Linked DNA regions of Homo sapiens. The protein of the gene in region 2 purifies or fractionates together with the protein of the main gene of each other region. This does not show direct contact. Each region holds a gene or a part of one and is shown on either strand. Other genes may lie near its edges. The genes, in order: MELK, IL13RA2, PHLDB3 and SDK2.

Region 1 (7,474 bases), on a different chromosome or scaffold from region 2:
GAGCAGGAGAATGGAAATGGAGGAACACTGGACTATAAATCTGAATGCACATGTTTACATTCCATGCAAAGGACTGGGCTATTTCAAATTGTCACTCAGAAAGAGAAAGCAATTTGTAAGATGCTGGAATTCACTTCCCAGATTAGGGATTTAAGAGTGTCATAATTAACTTAATAGACTTCTCCCAAAAGAGTTATAAACATCCCAGTCATGGCCTCTGGAAAACTAGCAGAGATGGGCAAGTTGTTTATTTAACAACTAAGGTAAGACTGAAGCCATGCACTTTTTTTTTTCTTTCTTTCTTCCATTTTCTCTATCTACCCGCTTCTCTCAAATTACATCATGTCTTTGGATGAGTAATACCAATGTGGGCCTAGATTATAGCTACTGAATCAAGGGAATATCGTTGTTGCTGCAATGTGAGAAAACTGGTGCTTACATTACAAACTCCTACACTAATAGCAGATTATACTTGATTTGTAAATCTTTGTGAATGTGGAGCTGGTTCTAAATATTCTCATGTGCCCTGTTTATCCTCTAGAGTTTGTTAATATAGAATACAGAAAAGCCTTGAGAACAGAGTAACCCAACTTTGTAGCTGCTGAAGGAGGTATATTATCAGTCAACGCGGAAGACAGCCTCTCAACTGTGAATAATGAAGAAGGAAATTAGACCCCAATCAGACACCTGAGTGCCCTTCTGGGCTTGACTAAATAAATAGAAGAATTGGGGGTATATATAATTGGGTTTTGTTTTTGTTTTTGTTTTTGAGACGGAGTCTTGCTCTCTTGCCCAGGCTGGAGTGCAGTGGCGTAATCTCGGCTCACTGCAACCTCCGCCCTCTGAGTTCAAGCAATTCTGCCTCAGCCTCCCAAGTAGCTGGGATTACAGGTGTGCGCCACCACGCCCGGCTAATTTTTTGTATTTTTAGTAAAGATGGGGTTTCACCATCTTGGCCAGGCTGGTCTTGAACTCCTGACCTCACAATCCATCTGCCTCGGCCTCCCAAAGTGCTGGGATTACAGGCGTGAGCCACCGCGCCCGGCCTATAATTGGGGTCTTTAACTTCTCAGAAGAGCAAGGAATTGGGATAATGAGAAGACGTTTATGGTTAAATTTTAAAGGATAGCAACAAATTGGGGGCATTTTTTAACAATATTATTTGGGCTATTCTATTACTTGCCGCATAAATACATTTACCTTATCTACAGAGCTTGGAAAGACACTGATGCTGAGGATAATTTCAAACAGGAAGTAGAATACAGAATGGTTTTTTGGGTTTTGTCTGTTTATTTGCTTGAGACAGGGTCTCGTTCTGTCACCTAGGCTGGAGTGCAGTAGCTAGATCTCGGCTCACCGCAACCTCCGCCTCCTGGGTTCCAGAGATGCTCGTGCCTCAGCCTCCCCAGTTGCTGGGATTACAGGCATGCGCCACCATGCCCGGTTAATTTTTTTTTTTTTTTTTTTTTTTGTATTTTTAGTAGAGACGGGGTTTCGCCATGTTGGCCAGGCTGGTCTAGAACTCCTGGCCTCAAGTGATCCGCCCACCTCGGCCTCCCCAAGTGCTGGGATTACAAGCGTGAGCCACCACGCCGGGCTCAGAATGGTTTATAATGTGGCCTGTAACACATTTAATTAGCATCCTGCCCTGCTCCCTTGCAAAGGCTTCTGGGAGCACCAACAATGAGGCACTCATTGGGATTGATCTGCCCATCTAGTTGGTCCACAGTAGTTACACAGAAAGGACAGACCCTTGGGAGAAACAAGCCCACGAAGGCCCAGTAAGGGCTTTTCTGATTTTTCTGATTTTCTAGCCAGACTCCATGGGAAACAGAAACCAAAATTTAAACCAAAGTTAGGAACACTGGCCTCTAAACAACAATCCAGGCTCCTGATACTCACCTCATTCCACTAACAAAGGAGAAATACCAAAGGTAATTACCCGTCCTAAGTGCTAGGGACCTGATTCCTCTCTTGGGCAGCCTTCCCTGAGTCTACCCTTTCCAGCTCCCACAACCCTACACCAGGTTTCTTGGTGGGAGCAATCCTGCTGCTCCTATTACTGATACAGCATTCGGTGAAAATTCCCCTTTTAGGCCGGGCGTGGTGGCTCACGCCTGTAATCCCAGCACTCTGGGAGGCCAAGGCGGGCGGATCACCTGAGGACACGAGCTGGAGACCAGCCTGGCCAACGTGGTGAAACCCCGTCTCTACTAAAAATACAAAAAATGAGCCGGGCGTGGTGGCGGATGTCTGTAAGCTCAGCTACTCGGGAGGCTGAGGCAGAAGAATCGCTTGAACTTGGGAGGCGGAGGTTGCGGTGAGCCGAGATCGCGCCATTGCACTCCAGCCTGGGCAACAAGAGCGAAACTCCGTCTTGAAGAAAAAGAAAAAAAATTCCCCTTTTAGTGTGAGCCTCTGAAGCCACTACTCTGGGGAGATGATAGGAGAGGATGGATTTGGACTCTGAAAAGGTAGTGATAACACATCTCCTTTTTTATTGCACTGCCCCAGTAAACTGAGTTGTACAAACAGAAAAAACTCGAAACCCTTCTGTCAACTTTTTTCGCGGGGAAGAGTCACGGAAACTGGAAACGGGAAATGGGAATTCACGTCTATCGCAGCCTCCTAGGTGGCAAACGCTTAGCCTGAACACCTCTTCAATAACCCTGTTAAGTAGACACGGTCATTATCCCCACTTACGGAGAAGAAAACCGCGGGTCGGAAAGGTCAAATATCTTATCCAGGGAACAGGGCTGGTAAAGCGCGGGGCTCCGATGAAATCCTCCAGTCTCCCGAGAGCCAGGAGCAAACTGGGTTTGGGCCGCTGCGCCCCGCACAGCCCAGACCCCAGCCATCAACTGCGACTGCGGCGGGCAGGCGGGAGAACTGACCTGAGGGGCGGAGGGCACGGCTGAGCGGCGCCCGACAGAAGGACAGGGGCCTGCTGTCCTGAGAGACGCGGCTGGTACGGCGTTCCTAAGAATCTTTTCGATCGCCGGGTTGTGGCCGCTTCCGCCCGCCAAGGGAATCAAATCTCCCGGGCCGGAAGGGGCGGGGACGCGGCGGGGGCGCGCGCGGCGCCGGATCCCAGGGAAGCGGACGCGCACGGCAGGCGGGGGCGCGCACAGTGCCGGGGGGTTCTCACCGGGGCAACGGCTCGCGGTCGCTGTGGAGCCGTGAAAGGGATGGCCGGGAGGTCCACTGGGCTGCGAGGGGTGACTTGAGGCCTTGGTCTTGCCCCGGAGGGCACGTGATGATTTTCCAGGTGGCGTGGATATGCCAAGTCTCCACAGAACCCAACTTTCTTACGTTCTCTTCCTAAAATTGACGTGCCCTCTGGCAGTCACAGTTCTCATTTTCGTCCTCCCTTGCCCACTGGCCGTTCTCCCACCCAGCAAAGACAGGAATACCTCCCCCTCTCCAAAATGTGTTGCCACGAGGAATAAGAACCCCAGTAGCTGAGACTACAGGCACGCGCCACCACGCCTGGCTAAATTATTTGTGGGTAGAGACGGGATCTCGCTATGTTGGCCAGGCTGGTCTCGAACTCCTGGGCTCAAGCGATCCTCCCGCCTCAGCCTCCCAAAGTGCTGGGATTACAGGCGTGAGCCACTGTATCCGGCCCAGAAAATCTTTAGACAAATTAAACTTTACAGAGTTGAATTGACCAAAGAATGAGTCCAAAATCCAGTAATCCCTGGAACCAAAATAGGTTCAGAGTGATTCGGGCTGCCATATGTTCAAATAACATTTATGGACAGAAAAAGGAAAATGACTTACAGAAATTGCAGTCAAGTATGGAAACAGCTGGATTGGTTGCAACTCAACCTCTGACTATTTTGAGCACTGTTTAAACAGTTGGCCACCTGTGATTGGCCAAAACTCCGCTGCTGTGATTGACTGAGACTCGCTACTTGTTACAAGGTTACAGTCTCTTTACACATTTACAATTGTAGTTGTCTACAATTCACTATGTATGGAGAAACTGTTAGGCCAGGTGCAAAGGCTCACATCTATAATCCCAGCACTTTGGTGGGGGGGCGGGGGCAGATCATTTGGGGTCAGGAGTTCGAGACCAGCCTGACCAACATGATGAAACCCTGTCTCTACTAAAAATACAAAAAATTAGCCGGGCTTGGTGGCGCGAGCCTATAATCCCAGCTACTCAGGAGGTAGAGGCAGGAGAATCTCTTGATTCTCTCTGCTGGGAGGCAGAGGTTGCAGTGAGTAGAGATCGTGCCACTGCACTCCAGGCTGGGCAACAGAGCAAGACTCCGTCTCAAAAAAAGAGAAAGAGAGAAAGAGAGAGAGAAAAGAAAGAAAGGAAGAGAAGGGGAAGGGAAGGGGAAGGGAGGGGAAGGGAGGGGAAGGGAAGGGAAGGGAAAGGAAAGGAAGGGAGAGAAAGGGAGAGAGAGAAAGAAATAAATTGTTAGTCTGAACTTAAAATGCATAAGGAGGCAGCTTTATGCTAAACTTAATTTAACATGGTCATCTGAATCTTCAGCAAATCATAATCTTTTTGCTGGTGGAGGGTCTTGCCTCCATGCTGCTGATTGATCAGGGTGGTGGTTGCTAAACGTTGGGATGGCTGTGGCAATTTCCTAAAATAAAACAACAATGCTGCATCGATGGACACTTCCTTTCATGAAAGATTTCTCTGTAGCATGTGATGCTGTGTGATACCATTTCATCCACAGCAGGACTTCCTTCAAAGTTAGTTCTCTGAAATCTTGCCACTGCCTTATCAACAAAGTTTATGGAATATTCTAAATCTTTTGTTGTTATTTCAGCAATGATCACAGCATCTTCACCAAGAGGAGCTTCCATCTCAAGAAAGCACTCTCTCTTTGCTCATCCGTAAGAAGAAACTCCCCATCTATTCAAGTTGGATCATGAGATTGCAGCAGTTCAGTCACATATTCAGGCTTCACTTCCAATTCTAGTTCTCTTGCTGTTTCCACCAAATCTGCAGTTACTTCCACGAGTGAAGTCTTGAACCCCTCAAAGTCATCCATGAGGGTTGGAATTAATTTCTTCCCAACTCCTGTTAATGTTGATATGGTGACCTCTTCCCATTAATCATAAATGTTCTTTTTTTTTTTTTTGGAGATGGAGTCTCACTCTGTCACCCAGGCTGGAGTGCAGTGGCGTGGTCTCGGCTCACTGCAAGCTCCGCCTCCTGGGTTCACGCCATTCTCCTGCCTCAGCCTCCTGAGTAGCTGGGACTACAGGCGCCCACCACCATGCCCGGCTAATTTTTTTGTATTTTTAGTAGAGATGGGGTTTCACCATGTTAGCCAGGATGGTCTTGATCTCCTGACCTCATGATCCGCCTGCCTTGGCCTCCCAAAGTGCTGGGATTACAGGCGTGAGCCACCGTGCCCGGCCATAAATGTTCTTAATGACATCTAGAAGAGTTAATTCTTTCCAGAAGGCTTCCATTTTACTTTGCCCAGATCCAGCATAAAATCACTATCTATGGCATCTGTAACCTCACAAAATGTATTTTGTAAATAAAATGACTTGACAGTCAAAATCATTCCTTGATCTATGGCCTACAGAATGGATGTTATGTTAGCAGACATCCAAACAACATTCATTTCCTTGTACATCTCCATCAGAGCTCGTGGGTGACTAGGGGCATTATCAATGAGCATTAATATTTTGAAAGGAATCTTTTTTTCTTAGAAGTAGGTCTCAAAAGTGGGCTTAAGGTATGCAGTAAACCTTAGCCAGCTGTGGCGGCATATGCTGGTAATACCAGCTCTTCAGGAGACTGAGGCAGGAGGATCACTGGAGCCCAAGAGTTCGAGGTTACTGTAAGCTATAATTACGTCACCGCATTCCAGCATGGGTGGCAGAGTGAGACCCTGCCTCAAAAAAACAAACAAACAAACAAAAAAGATATTCAGTAAACCCTAGTATAAACAGTTATACTGTCATCTAGGCTTTGTTGTTCCATTTATAGAGCATAGGCAGAGTAGATTCAGCATAATTCATAAGGGCTCCGGGATTTTCAGACTGGCAAATGCACACTGGCTTCAACTCCAAGTCACCAGCTGCGTTAGCTCCTAACAAGAGAGTCAACCTGTCCTTTGAAGATTTGAAGCTAGGCATTGACTTCTTCTCTTTAGCTAAGAAAGTTCTAGATGGCTCCTCTTCCAACCTAGAACTATTTCCTCTACATTGAAAATTTGTTATTCAGTGGAGCCACCTGCATCAATGATCTTAGCCAAATCTTCTGTATAACTTGCTGCAGCTTCTACATCCGCACTTGCTGCTTCACTGCGCACGTTTATATTACAGAGACAACTTTTTTTCTTTTTTTGAGACGGAGTTTCGCTCTTGTTGCCCAGGCTGGAGTGCAATGGCGCCATCTCGGCTCGCCGCAAACTCGCCGCAAACTCGCCCTCCCAGGTTCAAGTGATTCTCCTGCCTCAGCCTCCCAAGTAGCTGGGATTACAGGCATGCACCACCACGCCCAGCTAATTTTGTATTTTTAGTAGAGACGATGTTTCTCCATGTTGGTTGGGCTGGTCTCAAACTCCTGACCTCAGTTGATCTGCCCGCCTCGGCCTCCCAAAGTGCTGGGAGTACAGGCGTGAGCCACTGCACCCAGCCTACAGCTTCTTACCTTAAATCTCATGAACCGACCTCTGCTAGCTTCCAAATTTTCTTCTGCAGTTTCCTCACCTCTCCTAGCCTTCACAGAATTGAGGAGAATTGTGGCCTTGCTTTGGATTAGGCTTTGGCTCAAGGAATTTTGTGTCTGGTTTGATCTTCTATCCAGACTACTATCTATCAGCAGTAAGGCTGTTTCGCATTCTTATCACTCATGTGTTCAGTGGAGTAGCACTTTTAATTTTCTTCAAGAACTTTTCCTTTGCATTCACAATTTGGCTAATTATTTGGCACAAGAGGCCTCCCTTTCAGCCTATCAGCTTTGGACATGCCTTCCTCACTAAGCTTAATCATTTCTAGATTTTTATTTCAAGTGACAGATGTGTGACTCTTCCTTTCACTTGAACACTTAGAGGCCATTGTAGGGTTATTAATTGGCTTAATTTCAACATTGTTGTGTCTCAGGGAATAGGAACGCCTGAGGAGAGGGAAAGAGACGGGGAACAATCAGCCAGTGAAGCAGTCAGAACACACACAATATTTATCAATTAAGTTTGCAGTCTAATTACGGGTATAGTTCATGGTACCCTAAAACAGTTACAAGAAGAGCATCAAGATCTCTGGTCCGCTGTGCAGGCTCACGCCTGTAATCCCAGCACTTTGGGAGACAGAGGTGGGCGGATCACGAGGTTAGGCGTCAAGACCAGCCTGACCAACACGGTGAAACCCCATCTCTACTAAAAATACAAAATTAGCCAGGCATGGTGGCGCATGCCTGTAATCCTAGCTACTTGGGAAGCTGAGGCAGGAGAATCACTTGAACCCAGGAGGCAGAAGTTGCGGTGACCCA
Region 2 (7,844 bases):
ATAAATAATTGTCTTTGCAAATTGGTCACTGCCTTTACAATAAAATAAAACAAAAAACATATGGTCATTTTGGATACTGTAGAAGAATCTTTTTTTCCTTTGTCAACATAGAGAAAGAACATTTCTAAAAGACCATGTTATGTATTATTAGCCTAGCAATGTTTTTCTGTCTCTTCCTTCTTTTTCCTATCCTTTCTGTATAGATTGTATCAGCTGTGGGGCACTGTGCTAGTCATATCACTTCTCTAAGCCCCAGTTTTACTGTTTGTAAACATGCAGTACAAACCTTATACACTTACAGACCTGTTAAAAAATAAACAAATTCTTTACAAACTACAAAAAGCTAAACAAACGAAAGAAATTACTGTTATTATGGCAAAGATCAGTAAAGGCAGCATATTGGATCAACAAGGGTGGTAGAAATTGGAAATTAATAATAAGTGTCTAATTATCTACTATGAACAAGTTTATTTTGCTGAATTAATAAAGGCAAATGTGTAGGATGTGGTAAGTTATTTTCAAGTGTTGCTTAGTGGCAGTGTCCTCAGAAGCAAACCCCTCTCAAGTATATAGAGCAATTTACTATTCTTCTAGCACTTTCACATACATTATCTTATTTAATCTTCAAGACACCCCTGCCAGGCTTGTATCATTACCTCCATTTTATAGATACAAATTGAGATATAATTTACCTCTTATCACAGTGGTTGAGGCAGGAGTGAAATCCAGATTGATACTTACACCGTTGTGTCTTTTATTATAAAAAGCTCCTCGGCTATGTATCTGTTACTTTATCCAAAGAATAGTTGGTCCTGCCAGCTTTTACAGCACCTTGGTATAATTCCAAATTTGCTTTAGATGGCTTTTGGCCTCACCCATAACTTCCCCATCTTGTGGCTTGTAGAATCTGTGTCCTGGCCCTGTGACTGTTTCAGGAATACCTAACTAATATTTTCTACGTGCTTGATTATTAGGCAGGAAAGTATTAGAGATTCTAATTAATGTCTCTAAAGTAGAGAGGAGAACAAAAGAGGACCTGTGATAACTGCTTACGTTAATCTATTTCTTGAGAAACCATATGATTGGTAAGTACCTGGAATTTCTCCAATAATGCAAAGATTGCAGCCAGCTGTTAAAGTGAGAGTATTATGTTGCATGACTTTGAAGCGGTGGAGAAGCGAGGCCGAGAAGAGGCAATCACTTTAGGTTTGCCATTCCAAAGGAGATTCTCAGTGAGAAACTATCTCAAAAGTGTTGTGTAAAACTGAGTGGGTAGAAATAGAAAGCTCCCCTCCACATTGATCTTAGGCATGGAAAATACCTAGTGTAGTGATTACCATCAAGGGCTCTGGTACTAGATTGTCTAGATTTAAATCCAAGTTTCACCATTTATGGTGTGTGACTTGAGGGAAGCCATTTGACTTCTGTATGTCATAGTTTCTGGTCTTTAAAAAGTTAATCTCATAGAGTAGAGAGTAGAATAGAAGTTACCAGAGGCTGGGGAGGGAATAAGGGAGCCGGGATGGGGAAAGGTTGGTGAATGGGTACAATGTTACAGTTAGATAAGAGGAATACATTCTGATTTCTATTGCACAGTAAGGTGAGTATAGCTAACAATAATGAATTGTATTTTTCAAAAGCTAGAAGAAAGGAATTTGAATGTTTTTACCACAAAGAACTGATAAATGTTTGAGGTGATGTATATGCTAATTACCGTGATTTGATCATTACACAACGTTATCCATGTATCAAAACATTACACTGTACCCCACAAATATGTACAATCATTATGTATCAATTAAAAATTAAAGTTAAAAAGAAAATTTAAACAAATAACATAGAACTAAAAATAGTATATATGTCCAAGTCTGATTGTGAGGATTATATGAGATAATGCATATAAATTGCATAGCACAGGGCAGTGCCTGAGATGTTGAATAAATACTAGAAGGTACTATTACTATGACAGATACTATGACTGTTGCCACTTTCACTTTGTGTCTTCTGCAAGATTTAGCTGGGATAGTATCTGGCAAAAAACTTCCAAAGATGCTCAATAAATATTTATTGAATTATTACTCTGTCAGAAATGTCATAATGATAAAACTGTGTGGTGGGCTGGATGGTTTGGGTGGTGACAGTAGGTAGAGGAAGGTTGGGAGTTAGGAAGAGGCTTCTAGTAAAATAGGTGCAGGATAGATTCATTATGATAAGAACATTTATTTGCTAGTTAGTGGAAAGGGTTCAGGAGATATGGTTTTCAATCCCAGCTCTGCCACCAATAAGTTGTGTACACTTGGCTTACTTACCTTCCTCTCTGGCTGTTATTTCCTTATTTTTAAAAATGAGGAGCTAAGACCAGATGAGTGGTTATGAACTGTGGTCTGGGGGTCTGAAATATAGAAAAACAACTTTTTCAAATCTAATATGTCTGCATTTGCTTTTCTAATCTTCCCTTTGTCTTCAGGTCCCCCTGGTCCTTGTGAAAAACTCCGGTGTTCCTGGTAACCACATAGTGTATAAAGCCCCTCATTGCACTAGTGACAATCCTGTAACCCAGAAGCAAAGGAGAGAATTGTCTTTGTGTTCATTTGGGTAAGAAAGTCTTGGTTGGGCCCTAGGTGTAATTCAGCAACTCCTTTTGTGGGTTTATCCATAAGTGATGCTAGAAGCTAGTTATCCCATTTTCCACCTTTGCTTGGGTATATTGATCAGTCTGATCCATGAAATGCTATTTGATAGCCTGAGTCAGATTTCATAGCCTATAAATGGAATAGAAGCAAATGATTTTAAACTCTTTACTTAGCATTTATGCTGTACATGACATAATGCTACGAAATCTTAAAGGACAGATCGATAGGGGAGAGAGAATTTTGTTAGAATCTCTCTGAGAGCATTGTAAGGGCAGCCTGATTGCCCTTAGTCCTTAAAGGTAATATGGAAGGTTTTCTCTTTGTCAGACCTATTGCCCTGATCCCAGTAGTAACCAGTGTGTTCATCTTAATCTCTGAGGGTAGCTCTGTGGAAGATCCATAACCTTCTGTTAGCCAAATCTACCTAGTACTTACAGATGCATTAGTGGGCAGCCATTGGCTGGCAAGTAAAGAGAGAGGAATTGGGGAGAAAGAGAGATTTGTTGGGCCTCAGTGAGAGAAATGACATTCTCTCCTGATTTTATGAGGCGCAGAATTTTTAAAATAACATGGTGTTGATTCAGCTTGGTTTGCTAATTAAAGGAAGATTTAAACACTGGGGTTCCAGAGGAAAAGCGTTCATAATCCTGAGTCATGCCTGTGGGACCCAGCAGAATGGGGTGGAAGTGCACAGGACTGGGCATCATGAGATCTCTGTTCTACTTCCAGCTTTGTTACTAATTTGCTGTGTAATCTTGGGTGGGGCAAGTCTGAGTTTTACTGCCCAATTTATAAAAGAGAATTTGACTAGCCTTGTCTGTAATATACATACTGGTTCTAAAAATTTGATCCTAAGATTCTATAAAGTAGCCATTGAGGCTTACCAAAGTTACAATATTACAGATGGATCAGGTAGGGGGAAGAGGGTGGGGTGGAAGAGAGGGTCTGTCCTATTGAATTAATCTATGCACAAGAAAAGAAGGGCAGTCCCTTCTTTTCTTTTGAGTGACTTTTAATCCTTTACTTTATGTGAAATTGTTGGTTCCAGAATATAGATTCGAAGAGAAGTGTATGGAATTGGGAGTAGTAGTTTTTCCTGAAAAGCAAAGTATTTTTAATTGAGTAGCTATTTGAAGGCATGAATCCTTTAAATTTTGATCATATCCGTCAAGAACCAATATCCAAGAACAGAAAGATGACTAAATTGTATTCTATGGCAATGAAATGCTGTTTTAGTTTAAGAAAGAGATGAAAAGTTCAGATTTGCCCTTTAGAAAGGTCACTCTTGCTGTATATGGTGTGGAAAATGGATCAGAGGCAGGAAAGACTGAATAAGGAGATCCCTGCTAAGATCCTCCATTTAGGAAGTGGTAGTGGTAATGGAGAGATTAGATGGGAGAGGAGTTGAGGAAGACTCCCAGGTTTCTGGTTTGGGCAACTGGAAGGATGGCGATGCCATTTACTAATAAAGGAAACACAGGAAAAAGTGGAACAATAATGAGAGTAGATGGAAATAAAAAATTTTAATTAAAAGAAGTAATTAAAAGAAAAAAGGAGCAAAGAAGAAAGTCAATCGTCCAGCAGGGGGCGAAAGAGCTAAATAAACACTTTTTTTAAACTAAAAAAAGAAATATTTATGAGGAAACAGAGCAAAGTTTTGAACTCTCTGAGGCTTCGGTTTAGGTTCTGAGCTTTCTCAGTGGTCAAATAACTTTCTATTTTATTTTATTTTATTTTATTTATTTATTTAGAGACAGTCTCGCTCTATTGCCCAGGCTGGAGTGCAATGGTGGGATCTTGGCTCACTGCAATCTCCGCCTCCCGGGTTCAAGCCATTCTCCTGCCTCGGCCTTCCGAATAGCTGGGATTACAGGCGCCCGCCACCATGCCTGGCTAATTGTGCATTTTTAGTAGAGAAAGGATTTCACCATGTTGGCCAGGCTGTCTCAAACTCCTGACTTCAGGTGATCCACCCGCCTCAGCCTCCGAAAGTGCTGGGATTACAGGCATGAGCCACCATGCCCGGCCGAAATAACTTTCAAATACTTTTTTCTTTTTCTTTTTTCTTTTTTTCCCCTCAGAAAAGAGTATTTGACTGTGTTTTATGTGTTGCTAGGGGAGACGGTTGCTATGGAGATGGATGATATCATAACTCCATTGTGAACCAGTAAGAACACTCTCGTGAGTCTAACGGTCTTCCGGATGAAGGCTATTTGAAGTCGCCATAACCTGGTCAGAAGTGTGCCTGTCGGCGGGGAGGTGAGGAGCTACAAGGGTTTTTGCTTAGCTTTGTTTTTATTCTTGTAAGCAGGATGAGACTAGAATCCTTTCTTTCCAATTATATTGGTTCCTAACTTGATTATTTCTGTTTCCATGGTCTGAGGTGGACACAGTTTTCCCAGTTCTTGGTAGAGAAGCACACAGAGAGCTTTCCAAAGTATTTTTAATCACGTTTAGTTTGATTATTTGATGTAAGATAAAGTTAAAATGTTATATTTTTCCTTCATAGAGAGGCAATATCAAGGTTTTAAATCTCGGAGAAATGGCTTTCGTTTGCTTGGCTATCGGATGCTTATATACCTTTCTGATAAGCACAACATTTGGCTGTACTTCATCTTCAGACACCGAGATAAAAGGTAAATGGATTTTAATGGAATAGTTTTTAAATTAGGAAAAGTAAAATTAAATGGATTTTAATGGAAAATTAACTGTCTTTTTGACCTGCCTTATGGAAGTGCATAACTAACTAGTAGATGAATTGTTATTGAAACTATTTCAGGAAGTTCATGAAAAAAAGCTATGTTCTTACTAGTCACTTTCTTGTATAAGGTAACTGATGTTGACACACATTTTGTGCGATAAATGCCAAATTAAAAACACTCTCCATACCTTTTTGTATAGTCTTTTTTAACAGATTAAGTATCTGAAACCTCATTGCCTGGTACTAAACTAACTGGAACAGTTCCTTAATTACTATCCTTAGCTACTATCCTTAGCTTTTATGACAATTAGATACATTAAAAAGGTACAGAAATTTAACGTAAAATTTAAAAATAATTAGAATTATTTAATTTTTCAATTATATTATATTATTTAATATAATGTTAATGTTTTATTATTAATTAATTAAAATTATTTATAGTATATTATTATATTATATATTATATTATAATTAATATAATTAAATACATATATTTATATTATAGTGATATGTTAGTTATTATTTGTTATTATTTGTTGTTCTTATTTGTTATTGTTATTGTTAGACAGATTTTTGTAATAAAATGTTCCCATCTTAGACCAAATTCTGGCGTACATGAGCACAGAGATAAAGCCACATTGAATTTTTTGCTTCTCTAAAAATTAATACCTAGTGAGGCAAAGTCACATTTTGCATATGTGATTTCTCAAAGAAGGAACAACTATATAGCAGTAATCTAGATTTTTTTAACAGCCTTACTGAGATATAATTTACACAAAACTAACTCTTTATACAAAACTATATTCTTTAAAACTATACATGTATAGTAAAACTCTTTACTATACGTTGGTTTTTAGTATATTCACAAAGTTGTGCAACAATCACCACTATCAAAGTCCAGAATAGTTGCATCACCCGTAAAACAGCCCCTAAACCCATTAAGCAGTCACCCTGCATTGTTTCTCCCTCCAGCCCCTACCAACCACGAATCTACTTTCTCTCTCTATGAATTTGTCTATTTTGAAATTTCATAGAAATGGAACTATGTCAATATGTGGTCTTTTGTGTCTGGCTTCTTTCAGTTAGTATAATGTTCTCAAGGTTCATCCATGTTGTAGCATGAATCAGTACTTCATGTCTTTTTATGGCTGAATAATATTTGATTGTATGCATGTAGCACATTTTGTTTATCTGTTAATCAATTGGTGCACATTTGGAAGCCATCTAGATTTAGCAATATTTGTCATAAAATACAGAAAAAATAAAAGTGTTTTATTGATTTATTTCAGTTAACCCTCCTCAGGATTTTGAGATAGTGGATCCCGGATACTTAGGTTATCTCTATTTGCAATGGCAACCCCCACTGTCTCTGGATCATTTTAAGGAATGCACAGTGGAATATGAACTAAAATACCGAAACATTGGTAGTGAAACATGGAAGGTAAGTAAAGCATGCATTTGCCGTATCAGAGTGATCATCAGGTGTTACTTTGTGATTCCTGACTTTAGTGTCCGCTCCAATTCCCATATCTCAATAGTTCTAATTAGGATATAAAAAGCTTCCACACCCGCTTCTGTCTCCTATGCATCCTGCTATATCTGTTTTCACCCCATCCAGTGTTAAGATTGCCATTGGAAGAACAAGAAAAAAAACAAAAACAAAAACAAAAAACTCGGTCTCGTGCAATATGAACTTGAAGAGCAGCACTTCACTAGAAGAGCATTTCACTGTATTTTACAATTGCTTATATTCTTGGATGTGGGCCTTATACATGCTACTGACCTGTGACCTTTTCTACTGTAGGAGACAAGGCTTATTTATCTTTGTACCCTTCCCACAGAGGGTCGCAGGATTATGGTTCGTTGTATATATTGTAGTAAGAGCTCAATGAAAATGTTTTGAATTATTAACTACTTATATACTCAACAAGCATGTATATTCAAAGATTTCTGTTGTAGATGACATTCTGTTACCTCTCTAATTCAGCTAGGTAGTTTCAAGAGACAATTCAAATTGAGCATTTATTGATCAACTTTGTGCTGGGCACTCTACTAGGTATCAGGAATATATGAATAAATAATAAATGATTTTTGTCCTCCAGAAGCTCATGATTTGTCTGTATTTTTCTGGTTACTTCCAGGGTTTTAGTTTATGTATTTCTTGAAGGTTTCATATTATATTTTGAAATGTGGCATGATTTGCCAAGTAATGTGCCTATGGTATATGAAAATTATCTATTTGATTCCAAGCAGATATAGCTCAAGTTTCTGCCATAAAGTTTTTTTTCCCTTCCAAAAGTTTTTGTTTTTATTTGGAATTAGATGTTAAGATTCAAATGATCTCATAAAATGATATGACATACAGAGGTGAGCTCTGCTGGAAATGTATCTGTGGCATTGTATCAAATAGTCTCTAGGATTGTCTTAGATATTGGGAACTCTCCAGGGTATTAATGATTTATTAGTCTTATTAATATAGCTCACTATACCATGGAGGTTTCTAAGCTTGA
Region 3 (7,133 bases), on a different chromosome or scaffold from region 2:
CCCCAGGCTGTGCCAAGACCTTGTACCACTCGGTCCATGAAAAGATCTTCACACTTCCAGGAGACTGTCTGATCTACCCTGCTCACGATTACCATGGTGAGGGCTTCCTGGAAGAGGTGTGGGGCGTACATAACTTTGAAAGTGGAGTGTAAATCTCTGTAATCCTTGTAGGGCATGAAGACGACCAGTCTCAGAAATTTCTCTGGCCAAAAAAAATTAAGTGTTTGAGGCTGGGCAAGGGGGCTCACACTTGTAATCCTAGCACTTTGGGAGGCCAAGGCAGGAGGCTCATTTGAGCCCAGGAGTGAGTTCGAGACCAGCTGGAGTAACATGGCAAAACCCTGCCTCTACAAAATACAAGAAATTAGCCAGGCATGGTGGCATGCTGCCAGCTACTTGGGAGGCTGTGGTAGAAGGATTGCTTGAGCCTGGGAGGTTGAGGCTGCAGTGAGCTATGATTGTACCACTATATTCCAGCCTGGGTGACACAGCAAGCCCCTGTCTCAAAAAAAAAAAAAAAAAAAGAGATAAAGTGCTTGAGCCTGCTGTGTGTGGATGTAGAAACTATGTGACTGCCAGATGCCTAGAATTCTGCAGGGCATGGGTTTTCCTGGGCCTTACTTGTGGAGCTTAGGGAACTGGGGGAAAACTAAATTTCCCATAGTGTCCATGGAGGAGGGAAAGCAATTTTAGGAATATTCTGGGAAGAGCCCCTGCCAGAGAGGCACCCAAGGCCTCCTGGGGAATGTAGTTCTGAGAGGCCTGAGGCACTAGACTCCTTGACTTTCCTTCCCCTCCCTTGGCCCCTAGGGTTCACAGTGTCCACCGTGGAGGAGGAGAGGACTCTGAACCCTCGGCTCACCCTCAGCTGTGAGGAGTTTGTCAAAATCATGGGCAACCTGAACTTGCCTAAACCTCAGCAGATAGGTGAGCAGCTGGGGACCTGGACTTCTGGGTCTGAGAGAGGAGGGGCTGGGGTCTTGGACTCCTGGGTCTGAGAGAGGAGGGGCTGGGGGCCTGGACTCCTGGGTCTGAGGGAGGAGGGGCTGGGGGCCTGGACTCCTGGGTCTGAGGGAGGAGAGGCTGGGGGCCTGGACTCCTGGGTCTAAGGGAGGAGGGGCTGGGGGACTGGACTCCTGGGTCTGAGGCAGTAGGGGCTGGGGGCCTGGACTCCTGGCTCTGAGGGAGTAGGGGCTGGGCTGGGGGCCTGGGCTCCTGAGTCTGAGGGAGGAGGGGCTGGGGGCCTGGGGTCCTGGGTCTGAGGGAGGAGGAGCTGGGGGCCTGGACTCCTGGGTCTGAAGGAGGAGGGGCTGGGCTGGGGGCCTGGGCTCCTGGGTCTGAGGGAGGAAGAACTGGGGGCCTGGACTCCTGGGTCTGAGGGAGGAGGAACTGGGGGCCTGGACTCCTGGATCTGAGGGAGGAGGGACTGGGGACCTGGGCTCCTGGGTCTGAGGGAGGAGGGACTGGGGGAGGAGGAGCTGGGGGCCTGGACTCCTGGGTCTGAGGGAGGAGGGACTGGGGACCTGGGCTCCTGGGTCTGAGGGAGGAGGGGCTGGGGGCCTGGACTCCTGGGTCTGAGGGAGGAGGGGCTGGGGGTCTGAACTCCTGAGTCTGAGGGAGGAGGGGCTGGGGGACTGGACTCCTGGGTCTGAGGGAGGAGGGGCTGGGGGACTGGACTCCTGGGTCTGAGGAAGGAAGGGCTGGGGGACTGGACTCCTGGGTCTGAGGGAGGAGGGGCTGGGGGTCTGGGCTCCTGGGTCTGAGGGAAGAGGGGCTGGGGGTCTGGACTCCTGGGTCTGAGGGAGGAGGGGCTGGGGTACTGGACTCCTGGGTCTGAGGGAAGGAGTGGGCTCAGGACCAAAACTCTAGTTTCCTGAAGAGGAAAGGTTCCTAGGATTTCTGGGTCTCCAGTGGGGCCTGGAACTCTACCTAGGCCCCTTAGTTTTAACCTTGATTTCTTCCTTTCAGACTTTGCTGTTCCAGCCAACATGCGCTGTGGGGTGCAGACACCCACTGCCTGATCTCACTTCTGTCAGATGCTCCCATCCACTATTAATGCACTAGGTGGGAGGAGAGGGCGGCAATGACACTGCACCTCTCCTTTCCCACCGCATTCCCTGGAGCTCCCTAAATAAAACTTTTTTTAACGTGAGTCTGACTTCTACCTATTTTCTGGGGGAACCAATTGGGTTTCTGGGCCGAAAGGGGTGGGGTTCTGGTCCTATGGAGAGGCCAGGGAGCCTGCAAGATTTGTTTTCTTTTTCTTTTCTTTTTTTTTTTGAGATGGAGTCTCCCTCCATTGCCCAGGCTGGAGTGCAGTGGCACGATCTCGGCTCACTGCAACCTCTGCCTCCCGGGTTCAAGCGATTCTCCTGCATCAGCTTCCCAAGTAGCTGGGACTACAGGCGCGTGCCACCATGCCCGGCTAATTTTTTCATATTTTTAGTAGAGACAGGGTTTGACCATGTTAGCCAATATGATCTTGATCTCCTGACCTCGTGATCCACCAGCCTCGGCCTCCCAAAGTGCTGGGATTACAGGTGTGAGCCACCGCGCCCAGCCCGGGAGCCCACAAGATTTCTAACTCACAAGATCAAAAACAAACACAGCTATCTGGGGCAGGTCTTCTCATCACCTTGGATTAGAACACCGGCTTGCTTTTGAGCCACTTCCCACTTAGCCCTGGGGTAAGTTACTTCACTTCTCTAGGCCTCAGTTTTCTTATCTCTAAAATGGAAGGAATAATAATGGGGTGTTGTGATGCTCTGATGAGTCAATGTGTGTGAGTGCCTGGCACATGGCCTATCAGTGTTCACCATTAAAGTTACTATCATTTAGAATGATCTTTTGGGTACTTCCTGGCTTGTAGTGACAGTATACGCAATGGTTAAGAACATGGACTTTTGAGAGAATGAAGCCTGCATTTTACCACTTACAACATGTGTAGATGTTGGCTACATTTTTTTTTTTTTTTCTGAGATGGGGTCTTACTCTGTCGCCCAGGCTGGAGTGCAGTGGCACATTCAAGACTCACTGCAGCCTCGACCTCCTGGGCTCGAGATATCCTCCTGCCTCAGCCTCTGGAGTAGCTGAGATGACAGGTGTGTGCCACCACGCCTGGCATAATTTTTGTATTTTTAGTAGAGATGGGGTTTCTCCATGTTGCCCAGGCTGGCCTTGAACTCCTGATCTCAAGCAATCCACCTGCCTCGGCTTCCCAAAGTGCTGGGATTACAGGCCTGAGCCTCTGTGCCCAGCCAACCTTGGGTGCATTTGTCCTCCTCAGCTTGTATCCCCAAGTGTAAAATGGAGATAGTAGGCCAGGAGCGGTGGCTCACGCCTGTAATCTCAACACTTTGGGAGGCTGAGGCAGGCAGGTTGTTTGAGCCCAGGAGTTCAAGATCAGCCTGGGCAACCTGGAGAAACCCAGTCTCTACTAAAAAAAAAGAAATGGAGGTAGTAATCACTTTCTCGCTGGACAGCTTTGAGGGTGAAATTAAATGACTGGGTATAAAGTGTTTCACACAGCTCTTGACTTCTAATCATCCCTTTTCATATACCAGTTATTTTCCTGTTTTCATTTTCCTGTTTTCGCCCAGAGAGGAAAGGGTCTGGCTGAGACCTTTAACCTCTGCCCTCCACCCCATAGCAAAGTTGTGGGGGGGTGGCGGTACACTTCCCTCAGTCTCTGGGCAGGTGTCTGACTCAGTTCAGGGCACCCCTTCCCCTTGTCCAGCTCCCCAAACCGGTCAGGGCCCTTCTGAAGGGCTCATTAGAGGGGAGACGTCCCCATCTCCATTCCTGCCTTCCTTTCTGAACTCCCAAGGTCTGGACATTAGAGAGGCTCCCATACAGAGGTGGCCAAGACTCCTCCAGGGGGGCAGGAATGAGGGGCTCGAGGGAGACTGGGAGGTCGCGATGCTGAGTTCCACGAGGGTGGGGCCGGGCCGGGGCCGGTGGGGCCGGGATGGCCGGATGCCGAGGCCACGGGTGGGGCAAGCCCGTGGCTCCCTCCTCCCTCGGGAGCTGTTGGACCTGTTGTCCCCCCTCCACTTCCGGGCTGCTGGGGAGGGGGACCGGGCGGCCTCTCTCCTCCCTCTTCCCCTGCCACCTGTCTCATAGGCAGAAGCGGCCGTGCCCAGCGCGCAGAGCGGAGCGCGCCGAAGCCTGAGCTCGTGAGGGGGCCGAGGCTGTGGGGAGGTGGCAGTTGGACTTCGGAATCTCAAGGACTCCGACTCCTGGCTTGTTCAGAGAAGGAGAGCCCCGACTCCTGGATCCCTGGGTGAGGCGGCGTGGGCACGGTTGCCCTGCACAGTGGGGTCGGGACTAAGACTACGGGGCTCCGGGAAGGATGGGGCGGGAGCCGAACTGCTGAGTCTCGGAGGGAGAAGATGGGTCGCTCTAAGCGAATCCAAGAGATTGTAGGGGGCTGCTGGGAGGGTACAAGGCCTGACACCTAGAGATGAGGGAGGGGAGGCGGGGTCGAAGAGGTCAGTAGGGGGCGTGCTACGACCCGGACTCAAATTCCGGTCCCGTCTCCGGTGGCGTGTCGCCTTGGAGCCATCAAGCCCCGCCTCTGGAAACTTCAGGACACGCCTCCGTAACGCTCAGTTCCATCCTTTGAACTCTTAGGCCCCGCCTCCTTGGGGGGGGGTCTCCGCGCCCCGGAGCAGACGCGAGCGGCGCTCAGCCGTCCTAGGCCCCGCCCCCGGAGCTTCTGGTCCCGCCCACCCCGCAGGAGTCCCAGCGGCCATGGGGACGCGAAGCAGCCCCGAGGAGGGGACCCCGCCGCCGCTGGTCCCGGAATGCGACGTGGAGGTCCAGCCCCAGGGCCATCCCGAGGAGTCCCGGGAACAGGAGGCATCCGAAGTCCTGGCGGAACCTTCGAGCCGCGGGGGAGCTGAGCAGCAGGCAGAGGAAGAAGAAGTGGGAGAAGGCAGCAGCACTGAGAGCAGCCGCGACGCGGTGAGGGGCCCGAGGGCGACAGCGCGGGGGGCTTGGACCGACGGGGACCCAAACAGGTGGCCAGACAGGTAGACAGGTAGAGGGAAACCAGAAAGACAGAGACCCGGAGACAGGGAGAGAGACCGAGTGATAGCAGAGACTACTGAGAGAGAGATACACCAGGACACGGAGCCAGAGAGGCAGAGGCACAGACAGACAGAAACCAGATACAGAGACAGAAACCAGATAGAGCCACGGGGAGGCCCCAAGAACGGAGATAGACCCAAACGGGCGACAGAGACAGAGAGACTAGTATAGAGGAACCAGATAGGTGGCTCACGCCTGTAATCCCAGCACTTGGGGAGGCCGAGGGGAGGATTGCTTAAGCCCAGGAGTTCGAGACAAGTCTGGGCAACATAGCAAATCCCTGTCTCTAGAGAAAAAAAAAATACAAAAATTGTCCAAGCGCAGTGCCGCGTGCCTGTAATCCCAGCTACTCGGGAGGCTGAGGCAGGAGGATCGCTTGAGCCCAGGAGTTGTAGGCTGCGGTGAACTATGACTGCGCCACTGCACCCCAGCCTGGGACAAAGCAGAACCTATCTCTAAAAATGAGAGAGAGAGAGAGAGAGAGAGAGAGAGAGAGAGACCAGATAGACAGACAGGAGAGACTACAGAACAGAGAGAACCAAACGAGTAAGAGATGCAGAGAGATCAAGAAGCCAGACAGAGACCCAGAGACATGGAGACTGAGAGACAAAGACCCCAAAAAGACAGAGACACAGTGAGACTAGAGTCAGAGAGAGGGGAATCGAGACAGAGGGAAACCCAGAAATAAATGGCAGAGATGCTCAGAGAAACAAATAGACAAAAACCTCGAGAGAGGGACATACTCCGAGGAAGAAAGATCTAGTGATTCTAGTGGACAGATCTAGTGGACAGATACCGAATCTGAGAGACTGGGGTCAGGTGGAGAGACAGAGACAGATCCAGGCACTACAAGAAAGTGACGCCAAGAGAATAGGACCTGATAGAGAAAAAGAAACACCTTTCATAAGTCGGCTTTACACCTGCTCACCCTCCATACGGTACTGCAAGCCTCTGTGGTCCGTGTGGTTGGGTGGTCACGGGACTTGCACCCTCCCCCACTCCGACCTTAAATACAGGGGTCTGAGGCCGGGCGCGGTGGCTTATGCCTGTAATCGTAGCACTTTGGGAGGCCGAGGTGGGAGAATCCCTTGAGCCTAGGAGTTTGAGACCAGCCTGGGCAACATAGCATCGCCCCCTCTCTGCCAAAAAAAAAAAAAAAAAAAAAGAGCTTGGCGTGGCGGTGCGCGCCTGTAGTCACAGCTACCTAGGAGGATGAGGCAGAAGAATCGCTTGAGCGAGGGAGGTCGATGCTGCAGTGAGCCGTAATCGCGCCACTGCACTCCAGCCAGTGAGACCCTATCTCAGGACAAAAAAAAAAAAAAGATAAGAAAGAAAAAGAAAAGAGCCTGCGACAGATTATGGGAGTGGTGGTTGTGTTAGGTAAGTGGACTGATGGACTGAGACCCGCAGAGGGTGATGTTGGGTGGGGACCAGACCTACTTAGTGATTGCAGGGGGCGAGGCATCTCCACTTAACCACGCCCCCCTCAACTTCAGCCCGAGGCTACGCCTCCGATAGCTATGGCGGCCACACCTCCCGCATCCACCTCTTCGCGGGAAGGGGTGCGAGGGGCGGCGCGGCGCCTGCAAGGACAGCAGCTGGAGGCATTGACTCGTGTGGCCCTGATGGAGCAGCGAGTGAAGGAGCTACAGCGCCAGAGGAAGGAGCTGAGGATCGAGGTGAGGCTGCGGACCCCTTGGGAAGCCTGGCCCCAACTCAAGCGGAACCCGCAAAGCCGGACTCCCAGCTTTTTCCTCGGGTGGGATCAGATTTTAGGCCCTCCGCTCTTCCTCCCTCCAAATTCAGGTCCCTGGAGTCCATCCTCCCTTCGAATCCGGTAGTTCAGGCCCTGGGCCTCTTCCTTGGACCTAGGCGTCCGAGCCCCCAGCCCTGGCATTCTCTCCGCAGATGGAGGTGGAGGTGGCCTTGCTGCGGGGTGAGCTGGCTGGGGAGCGAGTGGCCGCTCGCCGGGAGGAGGAGCAGCTGCGGGAGCTGCTGGAGCAGCAGGCGGCCTCGGAGCAGCGCGGCCGCCAGCAGCGGGA
Region 4 (6,584 bases), on a different chromosome or scaffold from region 2:
AAAATAAAAATGGACAAGGAGCTTGCCTTAAAATATCAGAGAGGCAGCATTATGTTTTGAGAGCCAGAAGGCTTTAGTACAAATCCTGGCTCCACCACTCCCCGAGGGCAAGCCACTTAAAGTCTCCCTGTCCCAGGTTTCCTCCTTGGGACTGTCGCAAAGATTCCATGAGTTAATAAACGTAAAGTGATTAGAACTGTGCCTGGCACAGAGTGAATGCCATAGACATATTAGCTATTGCTATTATTATTATTCACTATAATTTGCACATTGCATCAAGTAGGTTCTTATTCTAAAAGTTTAAAATAAATAAAATAGTGCATTTCACTGGAAGGCACTCACTTATGCATTAAGAGAGCAGATAAGTCAGACCCTTGACTCTTCTCTGCAAAAGCACAGCATGGCTAAAAATTGCTGTCTGGGGAATGAACTGCTTGGGTATGATACTGGGACAGGTGACCCCATTCATGTAACAGGAAGGAAAAGAATGTTGCTTCAAATCTCCAAAAAAAAAAGTTTATTTATAAAATACTGACAGTTTGACAGGACACGGGACTTCTTGTGGTATATATTTCAAATCAATTTCTTTCTTACCTTTCATTTAAAAAATAAACCTGCTAACACGCTATATGACATAGAGATATATATTTTTTTCTTACAGACAGACACCTGCCATAATGAATACTCTCCCCATAATTTTTTGTTATATCTTTTAAATCAAAAAATAAAGATTTGTGTTGATTTTTGTTTCTGGAGTCTAGATGGATGGAGAAAGGTAACACGTTTAAATGCTTTTGGTTATTCTGATGGAAACAAAGAGAAGGGGGGTGGTCCCGAGGGGGCACCTGTGCTCAGGTGGTGGTCAGGATTGCCATGTGCGCATGCCCATGGGTGTCCCTGGATAGGGCCATACAGAGGCACTGGGGAGCGGGTGGCGGCTGCTCAGATGGTCTCCCCTTTACCTTCCTGCCCACCAGCCCCTCACCCAGGGTAGGCACCTTCAGATGTGCACTCTGGGAAGCTGAGGGAAGCCCCTGCCCAGCCAGAGTGGCACTGTGGTGAGGCTCTGGCACCTTTAGAAGCACTGCCCAGGGAGGCGTGGGCAGCAACAGAAGGCCTTGAGGCAGCGTGCACCAGGTGGGGGCAGCCCCCGCTGTGTCCTTGTTTCCTCTAAATCACGGCAGTGCCAGGTTTGGGGGTAGGAGTTTTGGGGGCCGGGGGGTGAGGGATGGACAGAAGGGGAGGCAGCCTGGGTTTGCAAACTCTCTGGAGCCCTAGGAGGATGGTGGTTCTGGAGCCCAGAGCATCTTTTTGGTTTGTCTTGGCAGTGTGGGTGTGGAGCTGACGTCAACTCTGGAGGCGCAGCCAGGAAGGGGAAAGCCCTGGTGTGCCCAGCATGGGCTCCTGGGTGCAACACTGGGAGATTGCTTAGGGCACAAGGAGGCAATGCCAAAGGTGCCAGGTGTGTCCTGGTGTGAACCTGCTTTGGGTGGAGTCCCACAGGCAGGGGCCCTGGCATCACTGGCACGGAAAATCACAGGCCAGAAAGGGTCCCACTCTTTCTACAAAGGGCAGGGCCCACCACCCCTTTCTAATGTGGCCAGGTTTCTGGGAGGACGGTTGGGAGCCTCGGCTGTGCCAGTAGATATGTAAACAAGGGCAAAGAGACGTGTCCTGAAAAAATCTAGAGTTCCACAGCTGCAGGCCTGGGCTTCCAGCTGTGGCTGGGGCTGTGGAGACAATATTCCAGATGAGTGGGTATTGACTAAGTGTGGGACTTTCACCATGGGCCCAGCCTGATCTCATGGGCTTGTCTAAATTTGCGTGGTGTCCTCACCCTCTCAGACAATAGATCCCAGCCACGCCCCAAGTGCAAGCAACCCAGGCCACCTGTGCCTCACAGGGGAGAGATGGCTTCAGCCATCAGAGGGAGTTCAGGAGTCTCTTTGCTAACACACATACAGATGTGTGTTCTGTGCATATTTGTGTGTGCATGTGTGTAAGCACAGGCGTGCATGGGCACCATCCCGCATGTACACGTAGGTGTCAGCATGGGTGCGAATGAGCGTGTGGGGAGTGGGGGGGTGGAATATCTTAGTGCACCAGGTGATTCATTAAAGGCAAAGGAAAATTGACCTCATGTGCAATATATACACAGACACAATGTTTTTACTCACTCCTGCTTCCTCCCAAATAATCCCTCACTGGGCTGGGCTTAAATAATTCCCTAATGCAAACTGGGAACTTCCTTAAATGGTTAAATGCTCAGCAGAGAGGGAAAGGGATGAAGTTATTTAAAAAAAAAAAAAAAAAAAAGATGAGAGGAAAGAAAAGAAAGCTGTGCGGCACGATCACAGGCCGGCAGCTGCAGATGTGCTGCCATGGAGATGCCAGATGCTGCAGAGGGTGGGGGCGGAGGTGGCAGGGGTGGAGCAGGTGTCCAGCTGACTCCACTGCAGCCCCCAGACAAGTCCAAGGAGGCCCCGAGAGCACCTTACTTCCTGGAGGGGCAGAACCTCAGCCCTTGGTTCTCCTTTGGGGAAGATTGTGCTTCCCTTCCCAGGCCTCCTTATTGGAGAAACCGCTTTTTGGACACTGGAGCTGGGCTGGCCTGTCTGCTGAGCCATCTTCCAGCATCTCCCCGTTCACATTTCCCAGGGGTCAAGTGCTTCAGGAAAAACTCATGGCTGGGTGTGCCCGTTCTTTGGGCCCCAGACCCTGACTTCCCTTCCCGGTCACCATTAGCACAGTGACTGACTTGGGGCTGTAGGAGAGTGGTCCAGGCTCTCTCTTACCTTGGCATGTTTCCCAAATCTCCTACTTGGGCTTCCTTGAACTCTGCTCACCCACCCCAACAGAGCATCATCTCTTGGGCAGGGCCAGCAGCGCCTGTACACAGTGCACAGAGGGAGCCCTGCTCCACGAAGGGGCTCACGCTGAATCAGACAGGCCCCTGTGGGCCATCTGCCACCCATCTCAGCGGTGGGGCAGGTGTTGGGCTGGCCTTACAGGGCTGGCTGAGGGCACAGAGGGCCTTGGACAATGTATGGAGTTAGATAGAAAGGCTTCTCCCTAAACCCTGGCATCCGTAAGTACCAAGTGGACGGGAAGATCCTGGCCACTGGATGTGGCTTTTTGCAGAACACTCCTTGGAGCAGATTGTGTATGTGTATGTGTGTGTGTGTGTGTGTGTGTGTGTGTAAAAGCATTCCCTCCCATCAGCTATTCTTGTCACTTGGTCCCATCTGACCTGCCCCTGCTGGGCGTGCAATTCAAATGCTGGGTCCACTTTGGACTGAGCTTCCTGACCTGCCCCTTCCCCTCCCCGCCCTGGCCAGGCGGAGCCCAGCCTGGAAGCTGTTACTGGGGGTTAGGGTGTCTTTGCCTTTTTGCCTGTAAACTGGGTGCTAGGCTGACTGAGCAAACTCTGGGTATTCCAGCCTCTGGACCAGGGACTTGGGCCACCCCTCTGGGCTCCTGTGCCTCTGTGCTTAGGAGGCTGCCGGGTGGCAGTGAGAGGGACACAGATCTGAAAGTGAGTGTGCTGTCTGGCTAGGAGGGCCCAGATGAGTTTGTTCTGGAGAGGATCCCTAGACCCTGTTCCTTGTAAGTGCATGGGAGATGTGTGTGTGTGTGTGTGTGTGGTGAGGATCTATCCAGTGGAGAGTGACGTGTCTGCCCAGAGGGAGATCCCTCAGCTGTGCCCCACTCCCCAGCCTTGGGAAGCTGACTACCCCTTTAAAGAGAGGACGGATGGAACCTGGATTGGAAGAAAGAGAACAGTCAAAGTGTCATTCTTATCTTGCCCACAATGCGTTAAACCTAATCATCCCACAGTGCCAAGGCCAGTCGCCTTATTTACACCTCTGCTCCCCAGACTTCACCTTTCCTTGTCCATGCTCAGGAAAGTCAATTCCAGCACAGGGAGGCAGGGGTCAGTTGTGGGGGGTTTCTCCCCTACCCTTGGGCTCTCTTCCTTGGATTCAATATTTTAAAAAATATGCAGGAACAAGGAAGGCGCTAAGCAAATTCTCACCCTTTAGTTTTTTGTTTTTTGTTTTTCTTCCTTTTTCTAAATAAACCAAATGCTTGGTGGAGAAGTTGAGCAGGGGAGATGGGCAGTAGAGGTTGCCAAGACAGGGCAGGGGGTCTGGATGAGGCTGTCCGATGCCTGCCAGCCACAGTGATGGTGCATGGAGGGAAGGAGGAGCAGAGAGAGAAGATAGGCGTGGCCTCCGGGATGCCCATTCTTTTTGCAGAGAGCAGCGGCAGTGGGTCCAGGGGTCCTGGAGGGGCTGGAAGGGGGCAGCTGGCTGGACATCCAGAAGCTTTTTCTTCCCTCGGCCACGCCTGCCTGGCGGCCTCCAGTCCTTAGCCTCCGCTCCCTCTCTCTCTCCAGATGCCCGCCCCACTCCGTGTCCATAGCAGTGACACAGCCACTTCCCCAGCTCCGTGTAATTCCCAAGGGAGCAGTGAACCCCACCATCTCAAAGCTGAAGAGCTGCTGGCCACACACATCCTCTCACGGTTTTCTCCCTCCTTCTGAACGCCGGCTTTGCTGGCCCTGGAATCTCTGGAAAAATAAACTCAGGAGGTGAAAAGTTGACTTGGTTTCTTGGTGTTTTTGTTTTCTGGCAGGCAGTGAGAGGAGGGGTGAAGGAGGAGTTTGGTGCCATTTCTCTTTCTGCTTTTTCCTCTTCTGATGTCAAACAAATGATGAAAATCCTGCTATGGGAGCCCGGGAGCCTGGGGCCAGGCTGCTGGGGGGACGGTAGAGGGTGCTCTGCTGACTTGGGGGGTTAGGGGGGTTCTGGGGCGTTGGAGTCCGACTGGCCTTGGGCCGAAAGAGGCTGCCCTGCTGGGTGCTGGTGCTGTTGGTGACGGTGGTGTGGTCTGGCTCACCCGAGTCGCTCTCCGTGTAGCTGTAGGCCTGTGCCCTCGAGATGCCCTTCTGCTGTCGCCGCCACGAGTTGTAGTATGTGGGGTCACTGATGTAGTGGTTGACAAAGGAGTGGGCCTTCTGGTGGTTTGAGTCGACCTCGTACTCGCTGTCACTTCCCTGGGAGGACAGAGAATCAGGGTGTGTCAGTGGCCCCGTAGGGACAGGCCATTGTGGTTGGGGCCGGAAGGCACAGGGCATTCTGGTTCAAAACTCTGCTCTGCCTCTTTCAAGACTTGGACTGTGGGCCTCCCAGCCCCCTCACTGCCAAGGGGGTCTGGTGCCCGTTTGTGCCCGCCTGCTGCTTCCTTCACAGCAGATCCGGAACCGGAAGGATCTACTATGGGGTTGGCCCAGAGCTGGGAGATACCTGATAGAATCAGAAGACCTGAGTTTTTTTTTGTTTTTGTTTTTGTTTTTTTTTTTTGAGACAGAATCTCGCTGTTGCCAGGCTGGAGTACATTGGCATGATCTTGGCTCACTCCAACCTCTGACTCCCTGGTTCAAGCAATTCTCCTGCCTCAGCCTCCTGAGTAGCTGGGATGACAGACATGTGCCACCACGCCTGGCTAATTTTTTTGGTATGTTTAGGGGTTTCACCATGTTAGCTAGGCTGGTCTTGAACTCCTGACCTCAAGTGATCCACCCGCTTCACCCTCCCAAAGTACTGGGATTACAGGTGTCAGCCACTATCCCTGGCAAATTTTATTTTCTTTCCTTTTTATTCTTTTTTTTGGGGGGCGGGGAGTGGAAGGGGCACAGGGAATCACTGTGTTGCCCAGGCTGGAGCACAGTGGTGTGATCCTCTCTGTAGCCTCAACCTCCTAAGCTCAAGCTATCCTCCCATGTCAGCCTTCTGAGTAGCCAGGACTATGGGTGCATGCCACCACGCCCCACTAACTTAAAAAAATTTTTCTCTTGTGATGAGCTCTCCTTATGTTGCCCAGGCTGGTCTAGAACTCCTGGACTTAAGTGATCCTCCTGCCTTGGTCTCCTAAAGTGCTGGGATTACAGGCGTGAGCTACTTTACCTTACCTTTGTTTTCTTTTCTTTCTTTCTTTTTTTTTTGATACGCAGTTTCACTCTTGTTGCCCAGGCTGGATGCAATGGTGCAATCTGGGCTCACTGCAACCTCCACCTACCCGGTTCAAGTGATTCTCCTGCCTCAGCTTCTGGAGTAGTTGAAATTACAGGCACCTGCCACCATGCCTGGCTAATTTTTTGTATTTTTAGTAGAGATGGGGTTTCACCATGTTGGCCAGGTTGGTCTTGAACTCCTGACCTCAGGTGATCCACCCGCCTTGGCCTCTCAAAGTGCTGGGATTCAGGCGTGGGCCACCGTGCCCAGTCTACCTTTGTTTTCAATTGAAGTGAGGTTCACATAACCGAAAGTGAACCATTCTAAAGTCTATGACTCAGTGCATTAGGACCGTCGCAGTGTTGTGCAACCACCACTTCTATCCAGCCCTGAATCATTTCCATCACCCCAAAGTAAAACCTTGTACCCAGGAAGCAGTCACTCCCTATCTCTGCCCCTACCGGTCACTCCCTATATCCATGCCCCTGGCAACCACTAATCTGTTTTCTGTCTCCAGGGATTAACTTATTTGGGACTTTCCTATAAATGGGATCATATAATATGTGG

The links.
Region 1: the proteins of IL13RA2 (region 2) and MELK purify together in Homo sapiens (affinity purification with mass spectrometry; 2 studies listed by BioGRID and IntAct, with this or other methods). This does not show direct contact.
Region 3: the proteins of IL13RA2 (region 2) and PHLDB3 purify together in Homo sapiens (affinity purification with mass spectrometry; 2 studies listed by BioGRID and IntAct, with this or other methods). This does not show direct contact.
Region 4: the proteins of IL13RA2 (region 2) and SDK2 purify together in Homo sapiens (affinity purification with mass spectrometry; 2 studies listed by BioGRID and IntAct, with this or other methods). This does not show direct contact.

Annotation. Positions count from the first base shown.
Region 1 is NC_000009.12:36,568,428-36,575,901, reverse strand, and holds the start of MELK (maternal embryonic leucine zipper kinase), read right to left. Parts: upstream 3,008-7,474; 5' UTR 2,895-3,007; exon of another isoform or gene 2,704-2,894; intron 1-2,703. UniProt on the Homo sapiens protein: Serine/threonine-protein kinase involved in various processes such as cell cycle regulation, self-renewal of stem cells, apoptosis and splicing regulation. Has a broad substrate specificity; phosphorylates BCL2L14, CDC25B, MAP3K5/ASK1 and ZNF622.
Region 2 is NC_000023.11:115,014,601-115,022,444, reverse strand, and holds the start of IL13RA2 (interleukin-13 receptor subunit alpha-2 precursor), read left to right. Parts: upstream 1-4,828; 5' UTR 4,829-4,892; intron 4,893-5,142; 5' UTR 5,143-5,175; coding exon 5,176-5,269; intron 5,270-6,623; coding exon 6,624-6,775; intron 6,776-7,844. UniProt on the Homo sapiens protein: Cell surface receptor that plays a role in the regulation of IL-13-mediated responses. Functions as a decoy receptor that inhibits IL-13- and IL-4-mediated signal transduction via the JAK-STAT pathway and thereby modulates immune responses and inflammation.
Region 3 is NC_000019.10:43,501,738-43,508,870, reverse strand, and holds the start of PHLDB3 (pleckstrin homology-like domain family B member 3), read left to right. Parts: upstream 1-4,124; 5' UTR 4,125-4,282; intron 4,283-4,722; exon of another isoform or gene 4,723-4,738; 5' UTR 4,739-4,752; coding exon 4,753-4,965; intron 4,966-6,587; coding exon 6,588-6,770; intron 6,771-6,999; coding exon 7,000-7,133. Other genes in the region: ETHE1 (persulfide dioxygenase ETHE1, mitochondrial), read left to right, coding at 7-96, 811-927, 1,969-2,021.
Region 4 is NC_000017.11:73,333,882-73,340,465, forward strand, and holds the end of SDK2 (protein sidekick-2 precursor), read right to left. Parts: intron 5,060-6,584; coding exon 4,706-5,059; 3' UTR 4,574-4,705; coding exon of another isoform or gene 4,488-4,573; 3' UTR 503-4,487; downstream 1-502.